Linked DNA regions of Homo sapiens. The protein of the gene in region 1 purifies or fractionates together with the protein of each later gene. This does not show direct contact. Each region holds a gene or a part of one and is shown on either strand. Other genes may lie near its edges.

Region 1 (8,042 bases):
TTTCTTCTATAATCCATGTGGCTGGGTTTTGGGATCTGGCTAACCCCCGCCATGCCAGTAGCCTGAGGGGCCCAGCCCCACTTGTTGAACAGCCGCTCTCCCCGCCCCACCCACCCTGCCTGCCTGCCCACCCGCCCTGGTCTCTCCAGGAATCATGTTCGTTCAGGAGGAGGCCCTGGCCAGCAGCCTCTCGTCCACTGACAGTCTGACTCCCGAGCACCAGCCCATTGCCCAGGGATGTTCTGATTCCTTGGAGTCCATCCCTGCGGGACAGGTAATGCCCTCTTCCCGCTTCTGGGGACCATACATCTGTGGGTGGACTCTTCTGCTTGGGGTTGTGTGCAGTAGGAAGTGGCCTAGCTGGAGCTGAGGCAGATGCTTCCAGGGTTTGGCGTCCTCTGCTTTGTGCCACGGTCTTTCTCTTGGACCTGTCTCTGGTTGAGTGTCTTCCTGACAAACACAGTGGTTAAGGGTTTATTTTCAGCCTCCCTCCTTCCCTTCCCCACCCACCTTGGTTGATGGGAACAGGCAGTTCTCTGTCACTGGGCCCAGGGCACGAGGGGGGCAGGTGGAGAGGGTGGCCCTTGACCCTGTGAGCAGGCTTCCCTGGGGAAGGCATTTCAAAAGACCCTCGTGCAGGGGCTTGTTTGGGTTTCTTCTCTGTTTCCTGGCACCCCTGGAGCCACTCGGCGCCTTTCCGCATGTCACCCTGGTGGTCTGGGAAACAGTCTCACTCTGGCGCCTCCTCTGTGGTTGTTACTGAGAGTTCTGGGGCCCCTTCCTTTGTCCTGAGGAAAGACAGGAGGAAAGCAAGGGTGCTTGCTGTGTGCTTCGCAAATGTGCTTGGTGCCTGGGCCTCCCTCCAGCCCCATCTCTGCAGCAGCACAAGGTTATGGCCTTGTGACACTGGGACAGTTTGCAGAGTCCTTGTCTGTCCTCAGTACTCCACAGTATTCTGCCATCACCCTTTCCAGGGTCACACAGCAAGAGATTCCCAAGCCCTAGGTATTCCCCAGTGCACAGAGACCATTGGGAGGGACTTGCCAGGGCTGTGTCCACTGCTGGCCAGTTAGGGTCGGACCAAATTTGTAGACTGTCTACCTGGACCCTTGCGTGGCACAAGGAGCAGTCAGATGCTGGATCCCTGGAGAGTGGCGAGAGGCTCTGGCCCTAGGTTGCGAGTGGGAATCCCAGCCCTGCTGTGTGCTGGTGGGATAACCAAGTGGGTCTCTGCCCTTGGGTCCCAGAGTGGGCCCCAGGGTCCCAGAGTGGGCTCCAGGGTACAGCGTGGGGATGGGGAGCCTCCTCAGGGCGGTGATGGAGGGCAGAATGCCCAGCTCAGGGTCTGGCAACCAGTAAATGGCTGGGGCTGGCTGCAGTAGGTGGGGACTGACTGTGTTTCTTTCTCCATCAGGCAGCTTCCGATGATTTAAGGGACGTGCCAGGAGCTGTTGGTGGTGCAAGGTAAGGAAGAGGTTGGAAAGGGACCTGGGCCTGGCCACACAGCCTTATGCACACACACTGCTGTGGGCCAGGGGTGGCCAGTCAGGTTTTTTTAAAAATCCGTTCACAGAAGGCCTATAGAACTATTTCTTCCTCTAAAGAGACACAGATGAGATGGACTTTTCAATCTGTTTCCAAATTCTAATACCTAAACTCTGCTCAGCACATGTTGCCCTACACCAGGGGTTGGCAAATCAAGGCCTGTGTGTGGCCCACAGCCTGGGAGCTAAGAATGACAGTTACATTCTTTTTTCTTTTTTTGAGACTGAGTCTCGCTCTGTCGCCCAGGCTGGAGTGCAGTGGCGTGTTCTTGGCTCACTGCAACCCCCGCCTCCCAGATTAATGCAATTTTCCTGTCTCAGCCTCAGCCTTCTGAGTAGCCCGGACCACAGGCGCACGCCACCACGCCCAACTAATTTTTTATATTTTTAGTAGAGACAGAGATTCACCATGTTGCCTAGCTGGTCTCGAACTCCTGAACTCCAGTGATCCACCAACCTCGGCCTCCTAAAGTACTGGAATTACAGGCATGAGCCACCGCGCCTGGCTAGAATAACAGTTACTTTTTTTTTCTTTGAGACTGAGTCTTGCTTTGTCACCCAGGCTGGAGTGCAGTGGCCCGATCTCAGCTCGCTGCAACCTCCGCCTCCCGGGTTCAAGCGATTCTTCTGCCTCAGCCACCCAAGGTGCCCGCCACCACACCTGGCTAATTTTTCTGTTTTTAGTAGGGACAGGATTTCGCCATGTTGGACAGTTACATTCTTAAAGGGCTGCTGAAGATCGTATGGACATGGTAGCCCATAAATCCCAAAATGTGTACTCTGACCCTTTACAGAAGCTTACTAACTCCCACTCTACATGTGAGGGCTGCGGTGGCCAAGAAGAGCTGGAATTTAAGTGTGAAGGTCCTAAGACCTGCCCCAGCCCACTTCCCTGCCCCGGAGGCCACCAGGGGTGACAAGTAGATTCATGCCCTGGAGTGTTCCTTCTCTCCGGGGCTTATGGCAGCAACTGAATGACTTAGAAGTCCATGGGAGTGCTTCTGTTGTGGGAACTCGTGTGGTCTGGGCATAGCTGTGCCAGGCACCTATGGTCCAAGCCCCTAGAAGCATAGACTCTGACCAAACTGGCGACCCAGCCTTCCAGCAGGCAGCACTGGCTCCCACCAGGGCCCTCATCCTGGGAACTGACTTGGCCATGTGGGAGGCTTGGGAGACCCATGGGTTGGTTTCTCAGGGTCAGGGTGTAGCAGTGGGCTCCAGATGTGGCAGGTGGGAGGTGGGAGGGGCCCCTCCCAGCATGCCACTGACCTGGCCTCTCCCTGCACAGCCCAGAACATGCCGAGCCGGAGGTCCAGGTGGTGCCGGGGTCTGGCCAGATCATCTTCCTGCCCTTCACCTGCATTGGCTACACGGCCACCAATCAGGACTTCATCCAGCGCCTGAGCACACTGATCCGGCAGGCCATCGAGCGGCAGCTGCCTGCCTGGATCGAGGCTGCCAACCAGCGGGAGGAGGGCCAGGGTGAACAGGGCGAGGAGGAGGATGAGGAGGAGGAAGAAGAGGAGGACGTGGCTGAGAACCGCTACTTTGAAATGGGGCCCCCAGACGTGGAGGAGGAGGAGGGAGGAGGCCAGGGGGAGGAAGAGGAGGAGGAAGAGGAGGATGAAGAGGCCGAGGAGGAGCGCCTGGCTCTGGAATGGGCCCTGGGCGCGGACGAGGACTTCCTGCTGGAGCACATCCGCATCCTCAAGGTGCTGTGGTGCTTCCTGATCCATGTGCAGGGCAGTATCCGCCAGTTCGCCGCCTGCCTTGTGCTCACCGACTTCGGCATCGCAGTCTTCGAGATCCCGCACCAGGAGTCTCGGGGCAGCAGCCAGCACATCCTCTCCTCCCTGCGCTTTGTCTTTTGCTTCCCGCATGGCGACCTCACCGAGTTTGGCTTCCTCATGCCGGAGCTGTGTCTGGTGCTCAAGGTACGGCACAGTGAGAACACGCTCTTCATTATCTCGGACGCCGCCAACCTGCACGAGTTCCACGCGGACCTGCGCTCATGCTTTGCACCCCAGCACATGGCCATGCTGTGTAGCCCCATCCTCTACGGCAGCCACACCAGCCTGCAGGAGTTCCTGCGCCAGCTGCTCACCTTCTACAAGGTGGCTGGCGGCTGCCAGGAGCGCAGCCAGGGCTGCTTCCCCGTCTACCTGGTCTACAGTGACAAGCGCATGGTGCAGACGGCCGCCGGGGACTACTCAGGCAACATCGAGTGGGCCAGCTGCACACTCTGTTCAGCCGTGCGGCGCTCCTGCTGCGCGCCCTCTGAGGCCGTCAAGTCCGCCGCCATCCCCTACTGGCTGTTGCTCACGCCCCAGCACCTCAACGTCATCAAGGCCGACTTCAACCCCATGCCCAACCGTGGCACCCACAACTGTCGCAACCGCAACAGCTTCAAGCTCAGCCGTGTGCCGCTCTCCACCGTGCTGCTGGACCCCACACGCAGCTGTACCCAGCCTCGGGGCGCCTTTGCTGATGGCCACGTGCTAGAGCTGCTCGTGGGGTACCGCTTTGTCACTGCCATCTTCGTGCTGCCCCACGAGAAGTTCCACTTCCTGCGCGTCTACAACCAGCTGCGGGCCTCGCTGCAGGACCTGAAGACTGTGGTCATCGCCAAGACCCCCGGGACGGGAGGCAGCCCCCAGGGCTCCTTTGCGGATGGCCAGCCTGCCGAGCGCAGGGCCAGGTGAGATCAAGCACAGCTCTCAGGGGCCCCGGGGGCATGGGTCTGGCATGTGTGTGATCTCAGCATCTGCGGCTAGTGTGGGCTGGGAGTTGCTGCGAGAGCTGGGCCCCCTCCCCCCCTGCCCCTCGCCCCCCCCGGGCCTCCCTCTACATCACCACCCCAGGTTTGGTGCCAGGCTGCTCCTTATCTCAGTGCTGTAGAAGAAGCCCAGGAAAGCTGTCCTCTCACAAAATGGGTTGGCCCAGCCTCTTGCCACCCATGAAGGGCAGGCCAAGGGGGCTGCCCCACCTTTGCCTGCCCAGTGGGAGAGCAACAGGCTGCAGCACACCGAGGCCAGGAGAGCTGTCACCCTGGCTGCTGTGCTCCTCTGGGCCCAAGCATGGCCTCTGGGCACTACCTCCTCCAGGGTCACAGTCCCACGGATGGCTCTGTGGGCCAGGATCTGCCTTAGGCTTCACCCACCTCAACATCTTGCTGTGTTGTTCAGGCTGGTCTCAAACTTTGGGCTCAAACAATCCTCCGCCTCAGCCTCCCAAAGTGCTGGGATTACAGACATGAGCCACCGTGCCCGGCCGTGCTGTTCTGTTCTCCAATAGAGAAGCTGGTGGAAGTCCCCAGTAACCCAGAGGTGATGTGTGATGCACACAGTCTCCTCACTCTGAAGCTGCACATGCGATGTGAATCTTCATTTGGGGTCCGCTGTTAATATGGTGTTTTTCGGGGGATACAGCAATGACCAGCGTCCCCAGGAGGTCCCAGCAGAGGCTCTGGCCCCGGCCCCAGCGGAAGTCCCAGCTCCAGCCCCTGCAGCAGCCTCAGCCTCAGGCCCAGCGAAGACTCCGGCCCCAGCAGAGGCCTCAACTTCAGCTTTGGTCCCAGAGGAGACGCCAGTGGAAGCTCCAGCCCCACCCCCAGCCGAGGCCCCTGCCCAGTACCCGAGTGAGCACCTCATCCAGGCCACCTCGGAGGAGAATCAGATCCCCTCGCACTTGCCTGCCTGCCCGTCGCTCCGGCACGTCGCCAGCCTGCGGGGCAGCGCCATCATCGAGCTCTTCCACAGCAGCATTGCTGAGGTAGCGGCCCGGGTGTGGGTGCCAGCTATGGCACGGCCAGTCCTGAGGGCGAGGCCAAGCTTGGCTTCAGGTCAGCCTCAGGTCCCTGGACTTCCCTGATGTCGGAGTCCTCAGCTGAGCTGCTCACAGCTTTGAGGACCTGGGCAGTGAGGTCCTGAGTTGCCCTCCCCTGGCCATTTGTGCTGTGTCACCACCTCCTGTGCCACTTCCAGCCCCAGGTAGACCTCCCACCAACAGCCATCTCCCACCCCTCTCTTCCTCTCTGCCTTGAAGCATACGGATTCATTGGTGAGCCAAGAGGGGCTTCCCATGTCTCCTTGTGGAAGCTGTGGGCATGTCCCTGGTATGTGCAGGTTGCTAGGGTGGTGGAGCTGACAGGAGGCCCCCCGTCTTCAGGTTGAAAACGAGGAGCTGAGGCACCTCATGTGGTCCTCGGTGGTGTTCTACCAGACCCCAGGGCTGGAGGTGACTGCCTGCGTGCTGCTCTCCACCAAGGCTGTGTACTTTGTGCTCCACGACGGCCTCCGCCGCTACTTCTCAGAGCCACTGCAGGGTAGGCACAGGGCCTGCTGGGGCTCAGGAGCTTGGAGTGTGTGGTTGGGGCAGGCCTGGGGGGTCATTCTCTGGAGCCAGCTGTGTGGCTTCAGGCAGCAGTCAGCGACTTGGCTGCAGTGGGCTGAGAGTTCCTTGTCTGAGGAAGGGAGCTGTCATGAGGGAGGGGTCCATGGCCAGATGTGAACGCAGAATGCACTGAGCCAGGGCCTGGTGACTGCTTGGGAACAGCCAGTGATGAGAAGGGGTTAGGCAGCCTTTGCCCCTGGGGCTGCACAGGAAGCCCTAGCCAGCGACCTGGTGACTCCCCTGAGCTGGAAGAGGCTCCGACTCCAGAGGGCATTGCCTATGGGGCTTTGCACGGGTGGAAGCCAGGCCAGCCAAGAGGACCTGTTCCTGCTGGATGTGCTGCACACCTAGGAACCTTGTGCTTGCCTGCCACCGCCTCCCTCTGTCCCTTTCTCCATCACACAGATTTCTGGCATCAGAAAAACACCGACTACAACAACAGCCCTTTCCACATCTCCCAGTGCTTCGTGCTAAAGCTTAGTGACCTGCAGTCAGTCAATGTGGGGCTTTTCGACCAGCATTTCCGGCTGACGGGTGGGTGACCCTCTGTGCTTTGTCCTATTTCGGGTGAAGGCCAGCATCACCAGTGGGCTTCCACCTTCCGTACGTGGGTGGGTTATCATAGACAGTTATCTCTGTGCTCAAGAGCCACTTCTTAACCGGGGTGGGAGGAAGCAGCTTCAGGAACTGCTGAGAGAGCAGAACTCACGCTCCAGGGCTCAGAGCAGGAGGTAGGGTGTGCGGCAAGCGCTGGCCCGGACAGAAGCAGAGTGGGCCCTGGTCTCGGGCAGGATGTTTCTGACTCACATTTCCTGAGGAGAGAAAGCTAAGCTCTTTGCCTAATGTCTCTGTCTCCCCTTCCAGAAAAATGCCTCAGCTCTTCCGGCCTGAAGGAATGGCCTCCTCCCGGGCCCCATGATTCTTTCCTGTGTGGGCCCTCCTGGCCCTGGCCTCTGGGCTGAGGCTTGCTAGGGACTCGGGGTGGCTCTAAGGGGCAGGGATAGGGCTGGGGAGCGCCGGCCTGTGGCCCTGACCAGCCCCTTCTCGTGCAGGTTCCACCCCGATGCAGGTGGTCACGTGCTTGACGCGGGACAGCTACCTGACGCACTGCTTCCTCCAGCACCTCATGGTCGTGCTGTCCTCTCTGGAACGCACGCCCTCGCCGGAGCCTGTTGACAAGGACTTCTACTCCGAGTTTGGGAACAAGACCACAGGTACCCCTGTCTAGCTCAGGCTGCAGACAGGCTGCCTGGACAGACGTCATGGGCCCCAGGGTGGCTCTCTGTGCCCCAGAACCCTCTCTGCCTCTATGTCTCTCTTTTCTCACTTAGCTGGCCAGGGTTTTATGTGGGGCTTTTCGATGGCAGAGTCTCCACTCCAGCAGTCCCTCAACCATCTGGCAGACACATCTCCAGTGCCTGCTTTGGGCTCCTGGCCTGTGGGCCCCACACTTGGAGCATCCTCTCCTGCCTGTCTCATGCCGGGGTCTCTCGGTTGGCTTGGGGCCCTTGGTGCTCCCAGCCCCACCAGGGGCCGGTTCCAGGCTATAGCCCAGGTGGCATCTCTCTGCAGGGAAGATGGAGAACTACGAGCTGATCCACTCTAGTCGCGTCAAGTTTACCTACCCCAGTGAGGAGGAGATTGGGGACCTGACGTTCACTGTGGCCCAAAAGATGGCTGAGCCAGAGAAGGCCCCAGCCCTCAGCATCCTGCTGTACGTGCAGGCCTTCCAGGTGGGCATGCCACCCCCTGGGTGCTGCAGGGGCCCCCTGCGCCCCAAGACACTCCTGCTCACCAGCTCCGAGATCTTCCTCCTGGATGAGGACTGTGTCCACTACCCACTGCCCGAGTTTGCCAAAGAGCCGCCGCAGAGAGACAGGTACCGGCTGGACGATGGCCGCCGCGTCCGGGACCTGGACCGAGTGCTCATGGGCTACCAGACCTACCCGCAGGCCCTCACCCTCGTCTTCGATGACGTGCAAGGTCATGACCTCATGGGCAGTGTCACCCTGGACCACTTTGGGGAGGTGCCAGGTGGCCCGGCTAGAGCCAGCCAGGGCCGTGAAGTCCAGTGGCAGGTGTTTGTCCCCAGTGCTGAGAGCAGAG
Region 2 (8,060 bases), on another chromosome or scaffold:
GGGCTTCTGGAAACCTCTGTACAGTAGCAGGACCCTGGATCTATGTGAATTCGTACCTGGAGTTCTAGTACACGCAGACGGCAGGTGGAGGGGAGTGGGGCCGGTCCCCTGGGCTCCACAGACCCTGCAGCTGGATTGTGTCGCATGGAAGAGCCGTGAGAACCCAAAGTGCTTCATGTGCACTTTTTGCTGCCCCAGGAAGTGAGTGGCAGCGCCTGTATCCAGTCTCACTAAGGACTGGTGGCTTCTCATCTATAGTGGGGGCTTGAGGTTGGCAGCACAGACAAGCCCTGGCCCCCTCTCCCCAGCCAAGCCGAGGGAGGCTACATGGGGCATGGACAGATGGAGATGAAGCTCAGTGCTGACCAGCGGTGGCTGAATATCCCCCTGTCTTGCTGCCTGGGGAGGACAGGGCTGAGCTGACCTCTCCCAAGCTCTCCCCAGAACAAGTTGCCCTCTGTCTAGGGGAGTGAGTGAGCCGGGGACCCTGCACGGGACACCGGAACCCACACTCCATCCTCCCAGTGTCTGCAGCGCCTTGTCAGGGGCTGTGAAGGGAGCGTGAGATTTTAGGATCCTTTTGGACGAAGCCATCTTGCTGTGACCGTCCTGTGTGGTGCCCTGGGGTTCCATCCTAAGTTTCTCTTCCAACCATCGTGAGTGTGGACAGAAGCCAGCCTTTCCCTCAGCGCGGGTGGCCCCGGCCCCTTCTGTGCCTCAAAGTAGAGGCGAGAGTGCCCCTGTCTCAGTCTCCTCCTTCCCTAATCTCCGCCTGGAGCAGAACCCTAGCTCCATCTCAGGGCTGCTCTGGGGGCTGTGGGACCCCTGGGCGGTGTGGAAGGAGGACCCTGGGGGGCAGAGGGAATAAGATGGGGTCCAGCAGGCCAGCCTTTCTGATGTGACCTCATGCATTTAGACCCAGTCCTGAGTCCCCCAGGGGACCCTGAGTGGACACCATGAGCCCCTGAGGGCAGGTGTGGATCTGGGGCTTCCTGTGTCAGACTCTCCAGGCAGGGTGGGGAGCAGGGAGAGCTGGAGGGCGCCTCCCTTTGCTGCTGTGTTTGTCAGGCAGCCCCCACCCGATTCCAGCCTCCAGCAGCTTCACTTGGTGTTGCAGGGGGGTGACTGGGGGTGGGGAGGTGGGAAACTACACCCAGCACTGGGCTTACACCCGGGAGCAGCAGATGTCAGTCTTGCTGTCAAGGTTGAATACTGGTGGACTTTTCCCAGTTTTCAGGGAAGTTCTAGCCCAGTTAATATGTTTGTCCACAGCTGCCATTCATGCCACCCTGTGCAGGAGCCCAGTCAAAACACGTAGCTTCCCAGACCCTGTGCCCCCATGGGAACCTGAGCCATCTGAGGGCTGTGGACAGAAGTCTCCAGGCCCCACTTTTAATCACAGTGAGAGTCACTCAGGGGAGGGCGGGATGTTGACTTTGGAGAGTCCAGTTTTGCTATTCGGTTTTGTGGTTGGTGTCATCTCTCTGTGATTTTAGAAATGAAAAGAAAATTAGTCTGGACAGAATGAGGGAAGAAAGTTCAAGCGTCCCAACCCTGTTCTTGGCATCTTTTATTTCTTAAAGGCTTAAAGTCTCTTTAACAGCCAAAAAACAAATCGAGGGCGGGGTGGGGATTGGGGGGAATTCAGGGGCTGCCCGCAAAACCCGGGCCAGGACCCATCGCTTTGGTTGTGCATCATGTTCATCACCGCCGGACGTTCACCGACATGTTGGAGCCGCCGTGTTTGGGGGGCGAGCTCTGGTCCGCGCTCCACTCTGCCTCGTCTGTGCCCAAGTTCTCGGCACTGAGGCTTCCCTGCTCTCCCAAGGCGAGAAACGCCCCAGGGCATCCCCCTCCCTATGGGAGGCCCTGCACAGGGCGGGTCGCTGTGGTTGAGAGGGCCTCTGGGAGACGTGGTTCGCAAGGCGACCACGGGTGTGAGGGCACGGGGAGTTCAGCCCTATCCGGAGTTCAGGCACAGCCCCTGATGTCCCCGAAACCTAGAGACAGCAGGTGGTGTTGGGGGGTTCTGAGGGTGGAGTGTGGGGGTCCCCCAGAGGTCCAGTGGCAGCTCCTTGGGGAAGGACCTCCCCTCCCAGCAGGGGGTGCAGGGCAGGGCGTCTCTCCTGTTGCCCAGGAATCCATCACCCAGGCGGGGCAGGTTCCCGGTGGCCAAGGATTCTCCCGGTTTATGTGCTGATGATCCTCGGTGTTGGGGAATTGCAGACAGGTCATGAAGTCGGCAGCCCCGGCTTGGACGCCATCGGCTGGCTTCTAACCCTGTTTCCCTTTCGACTGAGGCACAGTGTCCGTGTCATCAGCTGCCCAGATGCTAAGGGGAGAGCTCACGGGCATTTGCCGTGTGTCTGAGCACAAGGGCCAGCAGTGGGGAGGCCCGGGAGGCAGGAGGCAGGGGTCCTTGAGTCCTGAAGGTCAGCACAGGATGAGGGCCTGCAGCGCTGGGACAGCCTTGAGCAACAGGAGGGGCTGGGAGGGTGGCCTGGAACAGCTCCCACTGGCGGCCAGGCAGGTGCACACAAAGGGAGATTACTGGCTCATCAGCCAGTGTTTGCCTTGTCTTTACCCTGCGGAGGGAGTTCCCAGGTGGGAGGGCTTTCCGACTCCTGCCAACCAACCCTTTCTCACGTCTTTCTTGATGATGTCCCCTTTCTCCCTGTCCCCTTGACACTGGACATTTGAGACAGCCTGTGGCCGAGCTCACTGGCCTCAGGGACAAGAAAGGAATCTGGGGTCACCTTTCCTCCTGGTGATCCAGGAATCCGCCTCTGCAGGAGGAGGACAGACTCAGAACCGGCCCCTCAACCTCCCTGGCGCTGCGGTTTGGCACCTCCACCCAGCAGAGCCCTGTGGCCCCAGGGCCTTCTTGACCCGAGGACACCCTTCTTGGTTCTGGCCAGAGCCCTTGCTTTGGAGATTTGGACTTTTTATACGGGAAGTGCTTGGATTTCTTACTTTAATTATCTCTTAAGTTGTAAATTGTGTACATTTTTGAGACATTTTGTGAATTGTGTACATTTTTGAGGCCTGTAGCAAAAAACAAGAGATGTGATTTGGGGCTTGGATATAGAGGCAAGGCAAAATAAGACAGAGACAGAGAGGAATAGAGAGAGAGTGGGCTCCACCTGGCCTGGCCTTGGCCCTCGCTGCCTGGAGCTTGCTCCTGTGGCAGTGAGCAAGGGTGCCGGTGTCCAGCCCCTTGGCCAGCCCTGCAGGAGTCTCGTGCTGTCACACCAGTGTCAAGGGTAGCAGGGCACAGTGGGGAAGTTCAGGCCTTTTGTTCAATCAACAGGCACCTGTGGACTCCATGGTGTGTCCCGATCTGCCTGCCACGAGCTGAGAGGATGACTCTCACTGGGAAGAGAGTGAGGAGGCTCTAGAGGGTGCATGTAGTCCCCACCCTGCTGGGTTCAGGGGAGCCTGTAGCCAACGCCAGAATCTCCCCTTCCAGCAGCAAGATGCCGGTCCTCCAGCAGACAGTCATGTGCCAGTCAAGGCTCTCCAGAGAAGCAGGACAAGTAGGACGCGCACGCACACTCCTGACAGATGTATGCGTATGTGTATGTCTGTATACACGTATCCTTCCGATCCCATTTCTCTCTACAGATAGTGTGTGTGTGTATAGATACATAGAGGGAGAAAGAGAGAAGCTGATTTATTGTAAAGAACTGGCTCATATGATTGTTGGAGGCTGGCAAGTCTCAAATCTGCAGGGCAGGCTGGAGACCCAGGGAGAGCCACTGTTGCCATCTTGGGTCCGAGGGCCATCGGGAGACGGAGTTCCTTCCTCCAGAGGGGACCTCAGTCTTTCCCTGTTAGTCCTCCAACCGACTAGACAAGGCCCACCCACAGTATGAAGGTCATCTGCTTTGCTCAAAGTCTACTGATGTAAATGTCTCCCTCCCTCCCTCCCTCCCTCCTTCCCTCCCTCTCTCCCTTCCTTCCTTCTTTCTTTCCTTCCTTCCTTCTTTCTTTCCTTCCTTCCTTCTTTCTTTCCTTCCTTCCTTCTTTCTTTCCTTCCTTCCTTCTTTCTTTCCTTCCTTCCTTCTTTCTTTCCTTCCTTCCTTCTTTCTTTCCTTCCTTCCTTCTTTCTTTCCTTCCTTCCTTCCTTCATCTCACTCTGCCACCCAGGCTGGAATGCAGTGCTATGATCATGGCTCAGGTGGATCCTCTGGCGTCAGCCTCCTGAGTGGCTGGGACTGCAGATGCATACCACCACAGCCAGATACCTTTTGTATTTTTTTGTGGAGTCGGGTCTCATTATGTTGCCCAGGCTGTCTCAAACTGCTGGGCTCATGCAATCCACCTGCCTCTGCCTCCCAAAGTGCTGGGATTACAGGCATGAGCCACCACACCCAGCCTGAGTGTCGCCTTCATCTTAAGAATGTCTTCACAGTGACATCTAGACTGCTTTGACCATACAGCGGGGCACTGTGGCCGGGCTAAGAAGGGTGCGCCCATCACCAGAGGTGATGATGTCTGCTGTCCCACTGCTAGGGGTGCAGGGGTTTAGGGGGACAGTGATGATTTTGAGAAACAAGTGGTTTCATCTTCTAGATCGGTGTTGCCGCAAGTATTGTTCTCGTAGTGTTTGAGGTTAAGTCCTAGGAAGTACTAAGCTTAAGGAGTTCATTTTCTGTCCTCCTTATTATGATTTGAGATGGAGTTGGTAAGGATACAGTGGGGTGATTTAGGTAATGAATGTACAAATAAAAGGCCTTTTGCTGACCTTACCGAGGCAAAGGTAACCCCAGATCCTTTAGCGAACATTGCTAAACATCTGCCACTCATGCTGCAAACACTGAGTTCAAGCTCGAGTACCCAAATAGTGAATTCGGGGGAGTCAGGACCAGAGAATGGTGATCTAGACCTTTTCACTCGGCATTTGCTTAGACCGGGCATTGGCAGACTTTTTCTGTAAAAGGCCACATAGTAAATATTTTGACTTTGCAGTACGAAAGCAGCTATGGACATGATGTAATAGAATGATTGTGGCTGTCTACCAACAAGATTTTATTAACAAGAGCGAGTGGGTGCTGGGGTTTGGCCTGGGGCCCTGGTTTGCTAACCCCTGGCTCTGAGGGTCCTTGGCCTGTTATGGGGTGGGGTGGGGACTCCCCTAGACTCTGCAAGTCTGGGCCTCCCTGTCTGTGAGATGGGGGTAGATAACAGTGCCATCAGGTTGAAGATGTAGGGATTGGTTCAGAGTCTTTAACACAGAGCATGGCACCCAGTGTCTAAGCAGTGAGTTGCTGTGGTTGTTACCGATGAGCCAAGTGTTTGATCCTCCCTGACACAAAAGTAAACTGGGGCTGGTGACACCTTGGAGCCTCCCCCTGGGTCTAACGCCGTCTAGAAGAGCCAGGTACTAAGGATTAGAAAGACAGGCAGGGCAGAGAGGGGCTGAGCCAGGCACCCGGCCCTGTGATGCCCTTTCTGCAGGCCTCTGTGGGTAAGTCTTCCTCACTGGTGTCTTCATTTATCTGCAGATGTGCTAGCACTTGGGGATGGAGTATCTTCATATGTAATGCAGGTGGCTGTAAGGGAGTACTGCCTTATCAGGGACTAACTTTTCCCTGTGGCTTTTATTCTCAGGACTGCAGGTTTTCTAATATAAATAAGAGTAGACTGTGCTCTGTATCCACGGGTTCCGCATCCTTGGATTTAACTAACCTCATGTTGAACATACTCAAAATAATAACAATAAATAGTACAACAATAAAATAATATGAGCTTAACAACACAGTACAACAAAGACTTCCACAGCATTTACATTGCATCAGGTATTATAAGGAATCTCAAGATGATGTAAAGTGTACATGAGGATGTGCATAGGGTACATGCAAACTCTACACCATCCCCGGGTTTTGATATCCGAGGGGAGTCCTGGAACCAGTTCCCAGCAGACACGGAGGGATTGTACGTTGCTTTAAGTCGCAGCAGGAATGGTGTCTCTCTAGGCTTTATTTTCCTCTCTAGGAAAATTGTTTAATTTTTCCAGGCCATAAAGAAAACACATGCTGGTAAATATTTTTAAAATATAGAAACACCTAATTTAGAAAGAAGCGTCTCTTATAGTTTCCAGGGAAACCAGGTTAACAGGTAAAGCTGGGATCATTGACTTGAAGTTGATCACGTTGGTACTAGATTATAGACATCTCTATTTTTATTGATTGATTGCTTGATTGTTTGAGGCAGGGTCACACTCTTATCACCCACACTGGAGTGCAGTGGCACGTTCATAGCTTTCTGCAGCCTTGAACTCCCAGGATCAAGCAATCTTCCTGCCTCAGCCCCCTGAGTAGCTAGGACTACAGGCATGCACCGCCACACCCAGCTAATTTTTTTTTTTTTCCTGTGGTGACAAGGTCTCATTATGTTGTCCAGGCTTGTCTTGAATTCCTGGCCTCAAGCAATCCTCCTGCCTTGGCCTCCAAAATTGCTGAGATTACGAGGTTGAGCCACCGCATCCAACCCTGACATCTCTATTTTTTAAACGACTCATTCCATAGCTGAGAGAGGGGTGCCTGGGTTGCAGAGGAAGAGGGTAGGGATACATGTTGCTAAGTTGCTTTCCCAAAGGGCGTGCCCGGAGCATGTGCCAGTTTTGAATATCAGCTTGTAATATTCCTACACGTTGGAACATTGTTTTAGTAAGCAAGCATTTGACACCTGCATGTGTGTTAAGATGCTTTCTGCGTTGTCAGCCAAGGAAAGCCCCATATGCAGCGTCAGCTGCAGACGCACAGTTTTCAGCTGTGCATCTCTTCTCTCCAAGCCACACTCAGTTTTGAACACACGGTGACACCTGAGAAGCATGGTGACTGCTCTGATGAAGCCTTTTGTTTTGCTTTCAGACAATGAGTATATATTTATGGATTTGGAGCAAAAGCTCAGCAAGTACTTCTCAAAAGATTGGAAGAAAGAAAGAAATGAAGTAAGTGTAGAGTGTCGGGTGGGAGAGGGCAGGCACCGCGGTGGGCTGTGCTGGGCCACGGGGACACGTGGGGTGGGAGAGAGCAGGCACCGCGGTGGGCTGTGGGGGACCGCGGGGATGCGTGGGTTGGGAGAGAGCAGGGCACCACGGTGGACAGTGGTGGGATGCGTGGGGTGGGAGAGGGCAGGCACCGCGGTGGACTGTGCTGGACCAATGTGCTGCCTTCTGTCCACGCAGCTGCTCCGTCCAGAGGGGCTGTCCGCAGGGGGACTGTGGTGAGCCCTGAGGCTGCAAGCAGGTGTGCCCGCCCGAAGCCCGCCTTTGCAGATGTTCTTGAACGCTGTAGACCACGTCCCACTCAGGGTTCTCCGGGTAGAAAATACCATGAGTCGAATTGTCAGCTATGGCTGCAGACACCTGAGCTTCGACTTTAAGCTGAGTGTGAAGCAATCCAGGCCCCCCCAACTGGGAAGACAGGACAGCCAGCGGCACCTCCCTGCGGCTCACTTGCTCTTTCTTGCATTTTCCCCACTAGGGAAATGAGAAACCCAGAGCCCCCTTCGTGGCCTTCCTCCGAGTGCAGCACTACGTGGAAAACGGAAGGGTCATAAGGTAACGGCATGCGGACTGTAAGGGGTGTTTCCTGGAATACTGAAAATCTGCCGCATGACGTGGAAGTCCCCTGAAGGCCACACATTACATTTGAGTTTATCCAAAAACAAAAAACAAACAAACAACCCCACTATATCGGCTGTTTGCTTTGGGGTTAACACAGGAATTCTATTTAATCGAAAGGTATACAGACTGTGTCATAAATTGGTACTTCTTTTTCTTTTCTTTTTCTTTTTGTTTTGTTTTGTTTTGTTTTGAGACGGAGTTTCACTCTTGTCGCCCAGGCTGGAGTGCAATGGCACAATCTCGACTCACTGCAACCTCCACCTCCTGGGTTCAAGCGATTCTTCTGCCTTAGTCTCCAGAGTAGCTGGGATTACAGGCGGGCGCCACCACACCTGGCTAATTTTGTATTTTCAGTAGAGACGGGGTTTCTCTGTGTTGGTCAAGCTGGTCTCAAACTCCCGACCTCAGGTGATCCACCCGCCTCGAC
Region 3 (6,824 bases), on another chromosome or scaffold:
ATACTGTATTGATTTCACTTATATGATATACCTACAGTAATCAAATGTACAGGAACTGGAAGAAGAATGGTGATTGCCAGGGGCTGGTAAAAGGAAGAAACAAGGAGTTATTGTTAATAGTTGTAGAGTTTCCATTTTATCAAATGAAAAAATTCTGGAGATTGGTTATACAACAATGTGAGTTCAACACTACTGAACTGTATACTTAGAATAGTATTTTTTTGTGGTTATAATAGTAAATTTTGTGGGTTTTTAACCACAATCTTTTAAAATGTGAAAAATAGAAGACTAAGAAGCTATGATCTCAGTGGAAACTAAAAGTATAGAGCATCTTTAAATGGAAGATGAAGAAAACTCCCATTACATGTCTCTTCTGTGTCAGGTGCTTTGTGTAGTATGGCTCATTTAAAAACCACATGATAATGTAATTTATTATTTCTGGACTTTGAAAAATATACAAACTAAATCTGCTCACTTTTAACTTAGACATAAATTCAGGTGAAATTTTTTATGTTTTGACTTCTCTTATCTCTTTTTATTCCTATTTACCAGGTTGGAAAGGTACTTTGTTGGGTGTTGCTATGGCTACAGTGAATGCTATGATAGCAGAATATGGCTGCAGTTTGGAAGACATTGTTGTTGTACTTGGACCTTCAGTAGGACCTTGCTGTTTTACTCTTCCAAGGGAATCAGCAGAGGCATTTCATAATCTTCATCCTGCATGTGTACAACTATTTGATTCACCAAATCCCTGTATCGACATCCGTAAAGCCACAAGGTATGTCTGATTTCATTCAACTGCAAGTTTGATTATTTCTGATTGTTCTAAAATGAAATTTATTTTGGAGAACAATTAATAACTCTAAGAAGAATTTAGGTGGTGGTTATTTAAGCAGCTGACATGCACATGTACACAAACACTCATTTTAAATATGAAATCTGTTTTCATTTGAGTTTGAATAACAGAAATTTTCCTGTCTGGTATCTTTCATTGATTTAAAAGTGAAGGAAGAAATATTTGGCATTTAATTTTAAGAGATCTACTTAAACTTCATATAGAAAAGTTGGCGTGTACTTTACTTCACAGCCATTCCTCAGCTAAATTCTCCTAAATGTAATGAACTATCAGGAAGCTGATATTTTAAAATTATTCTTATTATCTAATTAACTAGAGGAATATGTTTTTTAGAAAAAATATTAGATAATATAAATACACGGTTTTTTACTTTTAAGTTTTTTACAGTTCTTCGCATCTTTTAATTTACAAGGTTTTGTTATTAATAACTGGTGAAAATTATTTGTCATTACTACAAAGGCAAATTAATGTATGTTTTAAATCATGTTTCTATTCCAGTCGCCAAAACTTTACCCAGAGTCTGCCTCATTTAGTACAGATGTGGAAAAGTTTGAAATTGATTCTTAAATGTGACTTTTAAAATCAAGTATCACTAACTTGTAGTCATATTTCATATCATAAAGTGTTCATGGAGAAGCAAGTTTTCTGAGAAAAATCTGGCTAATAGAAGGAAAGGAGATGAAGGGCCAGATGACTAAAAAGCATACTCTGGCTGAGCCAGGTGAATTTTGCCTGATATCCTGGTAACTTTTGTAGACATTTCTTCTTAAATAAGCACTTGATTTTGATTATAAAATTCTGTACCTAGATTATGTCTATAAGACAATATGGAAGGTTGTACTGTGCATATATGAACTTAGGTGATAAATGCTGATAAAGTGTAGCATTTTTTTCCCTGACTAGTCCATGTTCTGTAAGTGAATAACAATATACATTGTTCTAGGTACATCTTTCCTGGAACTTTTTCATGCCAACATCCATACTTTTTTTCATATTGCTTTGGCTATTGGGAAAATAAACTCTTGCTCTCTTTTGAAAAATATTTTTCCTAAGGATTCTTCTAGAACAGGGAGGAATTCTTCCACAGAATATTCAGGACCAGAACCAAGATCTCAACCTCTGTACATCTTGCCATCCTGACAAGTTTTTCTCCCATGTCCGAGATGGCCTTAATTTTGGTACACAGATTGGCTTCATATCAATTAAAGAATGAGGTACAGTAGGTTTTCTCTCCTCTCTCCGTTTTTCCTCTCTTTCATCCCTCTCTCCACTTCTCCCTCCCTTTCTCTTTCTTCCTCTTTTAGCCTATTCCTCCCCTTATTTAAAAAAAAAAAGTTAATTATGTTAAACTTTACTCCTTTATTCCTACAGGGAGAATGATGTTTCTACTTTTTTAGTGATGTAATAGTGGTAGCAACGTTCATTTCCAATAACACTCTATTATGAAGAGCAGCCACTCCTTTTCCTAGTTAATGAAGAATAATTAGGCAGGCTTATGTTAAAAGTATAAAAATAAAACAATTTAATCTTTAAAAAGGTATGTAAGTATTTCCTTTCTCTCTACTATGTACTTGATATCTGTACATTCCCTATCCTCACATCCTTATAACTTTCATGTTATTTTTGAAAACAAATCTTTGCATAAACATTCTGAATTCTAGAATCATAAGAAATTCTCACAAAGAAACTAGCTTGATTTTCAACTAGATTTCCAAATGATTATCTGCAGTTGGAGTTGCCCAAATTTTTATTTTAAAATGACAGTAAGTAGTTTAGACTTTGTGGGACATACAGTATATCTCAGCTACTCAGCTTCGCCATTGTAGAGGTAGAGCAACAAGAGATACTGACAACATAGAGATGAATGAATATGTCCGTGTTCCAATAAAACTTTGTTTACAAAAATCAGGCGAGGGAGCCAGGCACAGTGGCCCTGCTCCTGTAGTCCCAGCTCCTCGGGAGGCTGAGGTGGGAGGACTGCTTTAGGCCAGGAGTTTGAGTACAGCATGGATAACATAAACCCTGTCTGTAAACAGTAAAATAAACAGGTAAGGGGCCAGATTTGGCCTATAGGCTATAGTACACTGACACATGATCTAAAGTCATACAGCAAGACTGAGTGTAATTTTCTTAAAATAGTATTTATTAGAGATGGTTTTGTTGGAATTATACAAAAATATTTCATGGCACTGATTTAGCACTGCCCCTATAAGATATGTGTAATTTTCCCTAAGGTTACTTCTAGCTGAATTAATATTATTTTTTACTCTTTACAATGTTTTTAGCTCTTTAACTTACAGAAAAACTTTAATAGACTTCATGACTCTTACCTTGATATTCTAATAACACCAGTAAGCGTCTCATATTTGATTTCTATGTATTTTACAGATACTTGACTGGATTTTTGTATAACTGCTTCCTGCCTCCTTCCAAACTGACTGCAAGAGAGAAATTTAGCTGTTTGATTTACTTAAAACCAAATGGATTACAATGGATAATTCATCTTTTGGGTATATTTTTACTATTATTCAAAGCCAAATGATTTTCATTTAATTGTAATAATAACTGACAAAAATCAGTATGTTGTAGCTAATATGTTTTATGCATGAGAATTATTCTTAAAGTTTGTTCTCCCTGTTTATTACACAGATCAGGAATAGATTTGTTCAGTTCAGTATTTATTGGATACCCTCTATTGGTCAGGCATTGTGTTAAGCATATGTGAATCAAAATGAACACAACTTTTTCCTTTGAGTCTGATACAGTGAAGGAGATAAACACTTCTACAACTTAAATTTAATTTTAATAGCAGTAGAAGAGAACATAAGGAATAGAGGTTAATTTTACCCAGAAGCAGGATAGAGAAAATATTACAGAGAAAATCACATATCACATGGGCTCGAAAGATGTAGAGGTTTTTGACAAATGAAGAACAACCATAACAGGTAGAGGGAACACCATGAACCAGGGCATGAAACTGAAAGTGCATAACATATTCTAGAGAGAGAAGGGTGTGGGCATGAGTTAGGGCTGGAAAAACAGGTTGGAAACAGATAAGTAAGGGTCTCAAATGCAATGTCAAAGAGCTTGCAGTTTATTTTCCAGGCAATGAGTAGGCAGCCAAAAAAAAAAAAGTAAGGATGTTTTTTTTTTTTTTCCCATGGCATCATATTTAAGAGGATGGATTTAAATTGTGTGAGACCAAAGCATAGAGACTAGATAAGAGGCGATCAAAATATTTCAAAAAGAAATAATGAAGATCCAATGAAGGAAGTGGAAATTAAAATAGGGAAGAGAGTAGATGGATTAGAGAGACATTTAAGAGATGGAATCAATAGATCCTGTTACTAGATAATGGAAGTAAGAGGTGAGGAAGAGTGGAAAAGTCATTAATGACTCTAAGATTTCTGCTTGGCTGCTTACCAAGATTGGCAACAAAGGGAGGGAGAAGGTTTGGAAAAAGAGAGAAGGATAATGAGTTTGACTTTACATAGAATGAAGGGCATCCAGATAGAAATCTTTGGTTAATAATTAGAAATATAGACCTAGAAATTAGGAGGAAACCTGAGACAGAGACAAATATTTCAAAGCTTACAATACAGAGATGATACCTGATTCTATTGGAGCAGGTTTGATCATCTAGGCAGAAATTAGGATGAGAAAAAAGGAGATCCAATAATACAACCTTATAGTCACAGAAGTAAGAAAAAAAGGGTAGTTGTTTTGAAGAAGCCAGGATAGGTGTGGAAAGTACTCAAAAAGAAATCTTCAGGGATAAAATAAAGTGATAATTTAAAAGAAATCAATGGATTAAACATATTGAAACTGTTCTATAGGCAGTGGTCATTGAGTCAGCTTTCAGTGCATTAGGAAGAAGATGCATAGGTGTCAACTCTTTTCTGACAGCATTTACTAGAGAAGAGAAAAAGCTGGGGACTACATCTTCAAGGAAGGGACTTTTTTTGGATGAGCAGTTTTGAGTGTGTTTGTCAGTTAAAGAGAGGAATTAGGTTAGTTTTCATTTGGGAAAAATTGTATATATATTTAATGTAAGTTATCACATTGCATCTTAAAAATATTCTTATTTAATACATATATTTCCTACATGTATATGTGGTAGCATGATAGCAAATAACATTTGTTTGGTATTTCCAAAGGACTTTCATGTACATTGCCTCATTTTACCTTTACAGCTACTCTGAAATACACAGGCATTATCCCTTTTATTCAGCTGAGAAAACTGAGCTTCATTGAGGTGGAGGTCAAAAATCACAAAATTTGTGATGAATTAAGATTTGAACATATGTTTTGTGACTCCAGTTTTCCTTTCAGATTTTAAAATTAATTAAAGGGATCTTCATTATACTTTTATTGTTAACTTTTTGTTAACATAATTTATTCATACATTCAGTGAAAATTTTGTTGAGGTACTGGGACAGGTTAAAAAATACAGTTGTAGCCCTCAGGATATTTAATATCCAGTGAAAAGTGACAGTCAGTAAACCAACAATCTCAATACTTTGATATATGTTGTGAGGTTGTGATAACCGATTCTTGTTTAGTTTAATTCTATATCTCCCTTAGACCAGTGTTAAATTTAAATAAAACACCTCATTTTTTCCAATTCAGGGAAGGCACTAAACATAAAGCATAGGATAGAAATGTTGAACTCATCCAAAATATTATTTTGTTTAATGAAAATGATGAAGATTAAGGAATACTTCCATGTATTGAGTAAGGTTGATAATTTTCTAATTCTTCACTGTGCATTATTTTGTTTGAAGTTGGTAAATTTGGAGTATCCTGCAGACACATTTTGCTTTATGTACTACAACATTCTACAACCAAATAAAAATTATTTTGATTATCTGATTTTGGATTATCTCTGCCAAAGTATATAATGAAAGGTTGTCTCCTTGCTGCTTTACTGAATGAAAAGTGTTGATTTAGTAACTCCAAACTATCAGGTTATTAAATAATCATCTTATTGTGTCTACAAGATAGCTGTCACTCTCACATATTTGTATGTAGGTTTCTAGGACTTTTGGGGTACAACAACAAAGATTTCTAGTAAGTTTTGTTTTTGTTTTTAATTTTATTTTAAATTTATAAATAACAATGGTACCTATTCATGAGATACATAATAATGTTTCCATTCATATAATGTACAGTGATCTGACCAAGGTAATTAGCATATCTATCATTTCGAACATTTTTCTTTGTGTTACGAACATTTAATATGTTCCTTCCAGCTATTTCAAACTATATAATATACTATTGTTAACTATAGTTATCCTACAGTGGTATAGAACACTAGAACTTATTCCTCTTAAAGTTTTGTTTTTAATCTAAGCACTGCTACTAACTGCACATAGGAAATATTGATTGCTATTTTATTAATAAGGGGAATTAAGTTTGTAAGTCAAATAAACATTAATGAAATACCTTTTTGAAAATACTATCAAACTAAAACTTACTGGGCCATTTATCCAACTGTAATTTTAAATTGTGAAAAATAGCACAGTGGCCAAATATGCTATACCCCAGTGCTTTATAAAACAAATAAGATGACCTTACCACTAGGAGGTGGTATTTCAACAAGTAGCTCTACTATTATTTCTTGGTATAAAGTTGAACTAATCTTTTTTTTTTTTGAAAAAAATCAACTTTATTTTTTCTAGGTTTAAAAAAATAGAACCAGCTATTAATTTTTGTTGAGAAAATGCATCTTTTGGTGTTCACATCTAAATTTCTGAAAAGGTGATCTGGTTACTAAAATCATCCCAAATACATTCATAAACCAGATCCACGTGTGACCAGCCCTTTACAAAAATTAATTACAGTTGCCACAGCCTTTACATTCATTCTTATCACACGTTACAACATGCAGATAACACAAAGAAAGGTCAACAAGCTGAAGTAAACATTACAGCATCAGGAAAATGAAAACCCATCTGTATAAAATAAA
Region 4 (8,060 bases), on another chromosome or scaffold:
TTTCTCAGTGTTGGAACTCCAGACTCGGAGATCCCACTGCTCACTCAACATCTCTTGGAAGCTCACACTCATCTCAGATCCACGTGCTCAAAACATGCGTCTTGATTCCATCTCTCCACAGTTGCTCCTCCCACACCTTGCCCATCCATCCCCCAGCTGGGGAGGCCAAGACCTTCGGGTTGCCCTCCATTCTCCTCCCCATTCTCTCCCACTTTTCTCCACTGCATCAGCAAAGCTGAGACTCTACCTGCAAAACATGCTGCAAATCTGACATACTATATACCAAAATCAACTTGAAATAGATCAAAGACCTAAATGTAAGAGCTAAAGCTAGAAAACTCTTAGAAGAAAATAGAGGTGTAAATCTTCAAGAGCTAGGCTTAGGCAGTGATTTCTTAAATATGATACCAAAGGCATAAACAACAAAAGAACAATAAATAAAATAGACTTCTTCAAAATTAAAAACTTTTGTGCTTTAAAGGGTACCATTAAGAAAGGGAAGGCCAGGCGCAGTAGCTCATGCCTGTAATCCCACCACTTCGGGAGGCCGACGCAGGTGGATCACCTGAGGTCAGGAGTTTGAGACCAGCCTCGCCAACATGGTGAAACCCCGTCTCTACTACAAATACGAAAATTAGCCAGGCATGGTGGCGAGCGCCTGTAATCCCAGCTACTTGGAAGGCTGAGGCAGGAGAATTGCTTGAACCCAGGAGGTGGAGATTGCAGTGAGCCGACATCACACCACTGCACTTCAGCCTGGGCAATAGAGTGAGACTCCATCCATCTCAAAAAAAAAAAAAAAAAAAGGAAAAGAGGCCAGGCATGGTGGTGGTGGCGGCTCACGCCTGTAATCCTAGCACTTTGGGAGGCCAAGGCAGGTTGATCACTTGAGGTCAGGAGTTCAAGACCAGCCTGGGCAACACGGTGAAACCCCATTTCTACTAAAAATATAAAAATCAGCTGGGCAAGGTGGCACATGCCTGTAATCCTTGCAACTCGGGAGGCTGAGGCAGGCGAATTGCTTGAATCCAGGAGGTGGAGGTTGCAGTGAGCCGAGATCATGCCACTGCACTCCAGCCTGGGCAACAGAGCAAGACTCTGTCTCAAAAAAAAAAAAAAAAAGAAAAGAAAAAAAATTAGCCAGGTGTGGTGGCATGTGCTTGTAGTCCCAGCTGCTTGGGAGGCTGAGGTGGGAGGACTGCTCGAGCCCAGGAGGTTGAGGCCGCAGTGAGCCATGATCTCACTACTACACTCCAGCCTGAGTGACAGAGTGAGACGCTGGCTCAAAAAAAAAAAAAAAAACTCTCAAGACACATTATATGAAAAACAGAAAGGTGGAAAATCTGTGGGTTCAACAGAGATCCTCAACCCAAGATTCCCCTGGGGAGCCTTCATAACTAACAAAGGCAGGTCCTACCCCAGAGATTCTGACCTAACTGGCCTGGAGAGAGGCCCAGTCATTGATATCTTTTAGGATTCCCTGTGTTACTCCCATAGGCAACCAAAGTTTCAACCACTTAGAGAAAGTGCTCTTTATTATGGAAAAGTGAAGCAAAAATAAAAATATGTATTTCTATGTGCTTGTATTTTCATAAAGAAGCCTCAAAAGAAAAAAAGGAATTTAAAAAAAAGGAATAAAAGTGATTACCGGGTGGAAGAAATGTAAGCATGGCAGGTATCAGGGGAATGTTTTTTAAGTATTTTTGGAGTGGAGCCATGTGAAATCGTCTCTCTCTTAAAACTAAAATAAATAATTTAAATAAATGAAATACTGTTGGGTCTGGGAAACAGTTTCTATAAATGTCTGTTAAGTGAAGAACAGAGAAAAAGAGAGGAAGGGATGGAGAGAGGAAGGGATGGAGAGAGGAAGGAATCACTTTAATGACCATCACACCCTTTTGGGCTGTAAATCAAGAAACCCTCACCCAAGGAACCAACCTTGTTTCTTTTTCTTCTTCTTTTTTTTTCTCTTGAGACAGAGTCTCGCTCTGTTGCCCAAGCTGGAGTGCAGTGGCACGATCTCCGCTCACTACAATCTCCGCTTCCTGGGTTCAAGCAATTCTCCTGCCTCAGCCTCCTAAGTAGCTGGGTCTACAGGCACCCGCCACCAAGCCCGGCTAATTTTTGTATTTTTAGTAGAGATGGAGTTTCACCATGTTGGCCAGGCTGGTCTCAAACTCCTGACCTCAAGTGATCTGCCAGCCTCGGCCTCCCAAAGTGTTGGGATTACAGATGTGAGCCACTGCACCCGGCACAACCCTGTTTCTAACACACACAAAAATTCAAATCCACCCAAATACCCATCAATGAGAGTCTAGGTTAAAATAGATTGGGCTCAGTCACATAATACAATACTTCGCAACCATTAAAAAGAGGAAGGGGAGGCCGGGTGCAGTGGCTCACGCCTGTAATTCTAGCAGTTTGGGAGGCCAAGACAGGTAGACTGCTTGAGGCCAGGAGTTCAAAACCAGCCTGGTTAACATGGTGAAACCCCATCTCTACTAAAAATACAAAAAATTAGCCAGGAATGGTGGTGTGCACCTGTAGTCCCAGCTACTCAGGAGGCTGAGGCAGGAGAATCACTTGAACCCGGGAGGCGGGGGTTGCAGTGAGCCAAGATCCTGCCACTGCACTCCAGCCTGGGCCACAAGAGCAAAACTCCATCTCAAAAAACAAAAGTAAGCCACAAGATTTTCTATAGACTGTTGTAGTTTTCCATAGAAAGCTTATGTATTTACCTATATCTAAGTCTATGCATTTACCTTTATCTATGTCTGTGTCTAGACCAGGGTTCCTCAACCTACAAACTGCAAACACTTGGGGCTGGAGCATTCTTTGCAGTGGGGGCTGTCTTGTGCCTTGTAGGATGTTGGGCAGCATGCTTGGCTTCTACCCATGAGACGCTAATAGCAACCTCTTCCCAGGGTGTGACAACAACAAAATATGTCTCCAGACACTGCCAAATGTGCCCCAGGGGCAAAATTGCCCATAGTTAAAAACCACTAATGGGCCTAGAGGGGTGTTCCCCAGTTTATGCACCACGCTCAATATTTAAAGGAGATTTTCTCTCTACACCATTTTTCTATAGTATTTCAAAATTTTTTTTTTTCTTTGAGACGGAGTCTCTCTCTGTCGCCCAGGCTGGAGTGCAGTGGCGTGATCTTGGCTCACTGAAAGCTCCGCCTCCCGGGTTCACGCCATTCTCCTGCCTCAGCCTCCGGAGTAGCTGGGACTACAGGCGCCCGCCACTGTGCCCGGCTAATTTTTTTGTAGTTTTAGTAGAGACAGGGTTTCACCGTGTTAGCCAGGATGGTCTCAATCTCCTGACCTCGTGATCCACCCGCCTCGGCCTCCCAAAGTGCTGGGATTACAGGCATGAGCCACCGTGCCCAGCCAGTATTTCACATTTTACGCAAGCATTCGCTACTGTTGCAATATGAAAAGCATGACAATTATGCATATATATATGATTGATAAGTGACTGTCAATATAGGAAAGTCCGAAAGGACATAAACAATGTAATGGTGGCTGCCTCTGGGGGAACACTCACCTTTTATTTTCTATACCCCTGTAAGGTTCAAAATTTTAACAACCAACATTTTTTCCTTCTGTATTGGTGTGTTTTTATTTTTTTTTTTAAGATCAAAGAACCAAAGATCTTTTGGCAGGAGACAAGAGAGAAACGGGAAGCTGGTCCAAGGCTTCCCAATCCCGTGGTGAGAAAACAGATCCCCTGACAACCAGCACTGCTGGGGCCTGCGTGCTCCAGGCAGGCATCCAAGGCTGGGCTGCGGGACAGAGCTGAGCCCAGGATCCCCCCTCCACAACATCCCGACTCCCCCACCACCAGCGGGCCCTGAGCAAGGTGCTGGCAAACATAAGTGTCGCATTTCCTTGGCCTCTTCCTTCTTCCACTGTTACCACAACATCAGCCTGCAGGTAGGGACAGATGAAACCCTTCTCAGGAAGCACACGGGGATGGCCCAAGTTCGGTGCTTTATTTCAATTCAGTCTAATAACAGTGCTTTGGGGCAGGAATCCCTGTTAACTCTGGCATGGCAACTGAGGCCAGGAGAGGCCAAGAGGCTGCTTTACACACAGCAGGCAAGTAGCAGCGTGGAGATTCAGATGCCAAGTCTGCGTGATCCTGCACATGGTGGTTGGAGAGCTTGGCCTCTTGGGAACAGACATGGGTTCAAAGCCTGACTCCATCACTTACCCACTCTTAACTGAAGGCAAATCCTCACCGCATGATCATTACTGACTGTATCCTAGAGTTTCCTTTCTGCAGCATCCACTTCCAGACTGGCCACCTAGTCCCTTTTACAGACAAGAAAACTCGGGTGCAGGGAGGTGAAAGGTTTTGCCCTGTATCACTCAGCTGCAAGTGGCAAAGGAAGAATCTGTGGCCTGATTTGCTGATGCCACATCACACAGGGCGGTGCTAAGTCCATTTCCACATGTCCCCCACAACATTCTACGCTCTTCCCACCTCCAAACCTTTGTCCATGCTGTGCCCTGCTGAGAATGCCCTCACCTCCCCTCATCAGCCCACCCAAAAGCATGGCCAACCCTCAAGCTTGGGCTGAGACCACCGACTCCTCCAGGACACCTTGGGCCACCTCTCCAGTGCCTCCCTCTGCACCCCATCACTCCCCAGTCTTGGATCACAATGGCCCATCTCCCCACAGAGATCAGAAGCTTCAAAGGGTGGTCCTTATGCCTCAGATTTCTTCCCCACCTTCGTGGTTCTTCACCAGAATGGTCTCCTAGAATATGGCCCAGTTGGGTAATTAAGGCCAGATTTGGGTTCAAATACCAGTTTTGTTACTTACTGCTGTGTGACCTGGGACAAGTTATTTCACCTCTCTGAGCCTCTGTTTTTTTCCCCCCATCTGTACAGGAAGATGATCACACAGCAGTAGGTAGTGTCAGCACTCTGCCCAACACTCAGGTATATGCCAAAGATCAAGAGAAGGGGCCCTCTGCCAACACCCTAGAGCCTCACTGATAGATATTTGGGTAGATTTGAATTTGTGTGTGTGTGTTAAAAACAAAGTGGCTTATTTGGGTGAGGGTTTCTTCACAGCTATTCTGCTTATGTACCCCCAAAAGGGTGTGCTTGTAATTAAAGTGATCCCTTCCTCCTTTCCTCCCCACCCCCCACCCTGCCATCCATTCTTCTCTTTCTCTCTGTTCTTCACTGAACAAAGGAAGCCAGATTTTCTTTCTTCTGCTGTGCATGGTGCCAGCCAGGATGGAAAAGTCTGAATGTTCATGACCCCACAAACAGCCTCAGGCAAGGACAGAGGGATTGGAAAATACATACTCCAGGTCCCTTGACCCCTGGACATGACAACTTCAGAGGTGTTCCATGCTGCCTCCCGGGGTCCCCAGTGAGATGTGCCTCTGTGGCCAACCATGGCCCCTGTAGCACCTGCCTCACTTCTTCTCTCCCCTACTGGTTCTTCCTGGGATCACCCCCTTAAAAAGTGCTTACAGGCCGGGCGCAGTGGCTCGCGCCTGTAATCCCAGCACTTTGGGAGGTCAAGGTGGGCGGATCACGAGGTCAGGAGTTCAAGACCGGCCTGGCCAAAATAGTGAAACCCCGTCTCTACTAAAAAAAAAAAATACAAAAAATTAGCCGGGTATGATGGCGGGCTCCTGTAATCCCAGCTACTTGGGAGGCTGAGGCAGGAGAATCGCTTAAACCCAGGAGGCGAAGGTTGCAGTGAGCCAAGATCACACCATTGTATTCCAGCCCAGGTGACAGTGTGAGACTCCGTCTCAAAAAAAAAAAAAAAAAAAAACAAGGGACTGCTGGAACCCAAAACCATGGTGATCCCTCTTTTGAGGCTCACGTAAGATCACTTGTTCACTCATTCAACAAATACTTCTTGAACATTCACAGTATGTCAAGCATGATGCTGGATTCTGGGGACATAATAATGAACAGGATACAACAGGCTATTATACAGCAGGAGCACAATAAAGCTACCATTGATATCTATCATTATCGTCATTGTAGGACAGAAGTGTAAAACAGGTGGCCGGCGCGCTGCATGGGGCTAGCAGACAAGTCTTGTTTGGGCTGAACAGCATTTTTAAAAATAAGTCCTCCTCATTTCCTAATGGGAGGATTACACATAAAAATCTAGATTTTCAGATTCTCTTGATAAATGAGGTTTGCCATCTCAAGGCCAGCATTCCTGCCTGTGAAGAACCAGCTGGGCCAGGCATGGTGGCACACGCCTGTCATCCCAGCACTTTGGGAGGCCGAGGCAGGAGGATCACTTGAGCCCAGGAGTTTGAGACCAGCCTGGGCAACATGGCAAAACCCTGTCTCTACAAAAAATAAAAAATTAGCCAAGCATGGTGGCGCATGCCTGTCATCCCAGCTATTTGGGAGGCTGAGGCGGGAGGATGGCTTGAGCCCAGGAGATTATGGCTGCAGTGAGCCATGATCATGCCACTGCACTCCAGCCTGGGCAACTAAGCAAGACTCTTTGTTTCAAACAAACAAATAAACAAACAAAGAACCAGGTGGGACCAAGCAGCAGTTGTCCAGTTCAGATAGGGCATGAGCTCTCCATTTGCCACAATCCATACCCCTCCCTGGAGCCTCATACCCAGCCTGACTCCACTCATTTATGTACCCAAAGTGGGCCACACAAAATCTGAGTTTCGGCCCCCTAGACTAGATGTTTAAACCATGTTTGACAAAATTAAAAAGTGTCTCGGTACTTACCTTGTGACTGTCTCCAGTCCCTGACTCCCACCAACAGGGTCCCATTTTGGCCTCCAAATTCTCTCCAGTAAGGCTGGGCCTCCCTTTGGGCTGCTCTCGCCTCCTCTCTCTGGCTTCATGCATGATGGACAGGCCCTCTCGGATGTTGGCAGGGGGCCCCTTCTCTGAGTAGGCCCTCTTGATATCCAGCGGCACCCGTCCACAGTCACGTGGGTGGTCACCCCACTGGGCCACACTGTCCTCCTCTCCCCGCCCGGTGGATTTCCTTGGGGTCCCTTTCTTCTGGTCAGTGGGGGGCGATTTGGGTGACACCCTGACCCCACTGCCTGGATCCTCCCGACCAGAGGGCTTTGACTCAGCCAGGTAATTCTGACACTTTGCAACATGATGTTTACTGGCAAAGGCCTTTCTGTCATCCTCAGCAAACCCCGTTTTTTTCCTGGGATCCGCAGGTATAGGAGAGCCCCCTGGATACCTTTCAGAAGGAGCCGAGGGTGGCAGAGCCCAGAAGGGAGGGCTAGATTTGGTGCCCATGGCTGTCTCCAAGGTCTCTGCCAGCTGCTTGCCTAAGCCAGGAGTGAAACTGTGATTTATTTCGGCAGAACTGGCCGGTTTCCAGAGACCCCCGGTATCGGGCATCTCCTTCAGGCTCCTCCTTCTCTGCTCCACCCCGCCCAGCTGAACAGGCCTCTCCCGAGGCAACGTACTGGGCTCCACGGTGGGACTCCTCCTCTCCTGAGCCTCCCCAGGGACTTTCAGCGACAGCTCCTGGTACTCTGCCATCAGGGCGTCAATGTCAAGAACGCTGGATCTGTAGCCATCTCTGATTTTACCTGGGAACGTGTCACTGATCACATCAGTCTTCCTTCTCACAGGAAGATCTTTTGGACGACTCCTCAGAGTCGGGGTGGTTTGGGGAGCTCCGCCGCTGGGGGACATCTTGTTCGCACTTTCCTTCCAATTGCTTTGAGGACGAGGGCCATCTTCTGATCCCCGATGACTCCATAAGGCATCCACATCAATGATTCTTCCATTGAAAGGGTCCAGACTCCAGGCCCCAAGAGATGATGGACGGTCTGTTGGCTTCAGAGTTTTTAAAATGCTTGCATTTTCATGCTCTCGTCCCTTCATCCAGTTTTTACTGCCTGCCATCTCCAATGCCTCTTCATGACCAAGAGAAACCAAAGTGGATGTTAAAGAATGAGGAGACGAGGGTGGAGTGATTTTTCTAGAATGTTCCAGCAAGCTTTCAGCTCCTGACAGAACCACACCCTTTGCCTTTTGAGTATTGGGAATCTGATAGGTGACTGCA

The links.
Region 2: the proteins of NISCH (region 1) and FRMD1 purify together in Homo sapiens (co-immunoprecipitation; one large-scale study listed by IntAct). This does not show direct contact.
Region 3: the proteins of NISCH (region 1) and LACC1 purify together in Homo sapiens (pull-down; one large-scale study listed by IntAct). This does not show direct contact.
Region 4: the proteins of NISCH (region 1) and KIAA1671 purify together in Homo sapiens (affinity purification with mass spectrometry, with the first as the bait; one large-scale study listed by BioGRID). This does not show direct contact.

Annotation. Positions count from the first base shown.
Region 1 is NC_000003.12:52,484,364-52,492,405, forward strand, and holds part of NISCH (nischarin), read left to right. Parts: intron 1-149; coding exon 150-274; intron 275-1,414; coding exon 1,415-1,464; intron 1,465-2,832; coding exon 2,833-4,242; intron 4,243-4,972; coding exon 4,973-5,315; intron 5,316-5,711; coding exon 5,712-5,868; intron 5,869-6,341; coding exon 6,342-6,470; intron 6,471-6,988; coding exon 6,989-7,150; intron 7,151-7,508; coding exon 7,509-8,042. UniProt on the Homo sapiens protein: Acts either as the functional imidazoline-1 receptor (I1R) candidate or as a membrane-associated mediator of the I1R signaling.
Region 2 is NC_000006.12:168,066,262-168,074,321, reverse strand, and holds part of FRMD1 (FERM domain-containing protein 1), read left to right. Parts: intron 1-6,798; exon of another isoform or gene 6,799-6,835; coding exon of another isoform or gene 6,836-6,875; coding exon 6,876-6,955; intron 6,956-7,192; exon of another isoform or gene 7,193-7,490; coding exon 7,491-7,567; intron 7,568-7,987; exon of another isoform or gene 7,988-8,060.
Region 3 is NC_000013.11:43,888,205-43,895,028, forward strand, and holds the end of LACC1 (purine nucleoside phosphorylase LACC1), read left to right. Parts: intron 1-552; coding exon 553-778; intron 779-1,909; coding exon 1,910-2,069; 3' UTR 2,070-2,070; exon of another isoform or gene 2,071-2,075; intron 2,076-3,244; coding exon of another isoform or gene 3,245-3,398; 3' UTR 3,399-5,728; downstream 5,729-6,824. UniProt on the Homo sapiens protein: Purine nucleoside enzyme that catalyzes the phosphorolysis of adenosine, guanosine and inosine nucleosides, yielding D-ribose 1-phosphate and the respective free bases, adenine, guanine and hypoxanthine.
Region 4 is NC_000022.11:25,040,214-25,048,273, reverse strand, and holds part of KIAA1671 (uncharacterized protein KIAA1671), read right to left. Parts: coding exon 6,749-8,060; intron 1-6,748.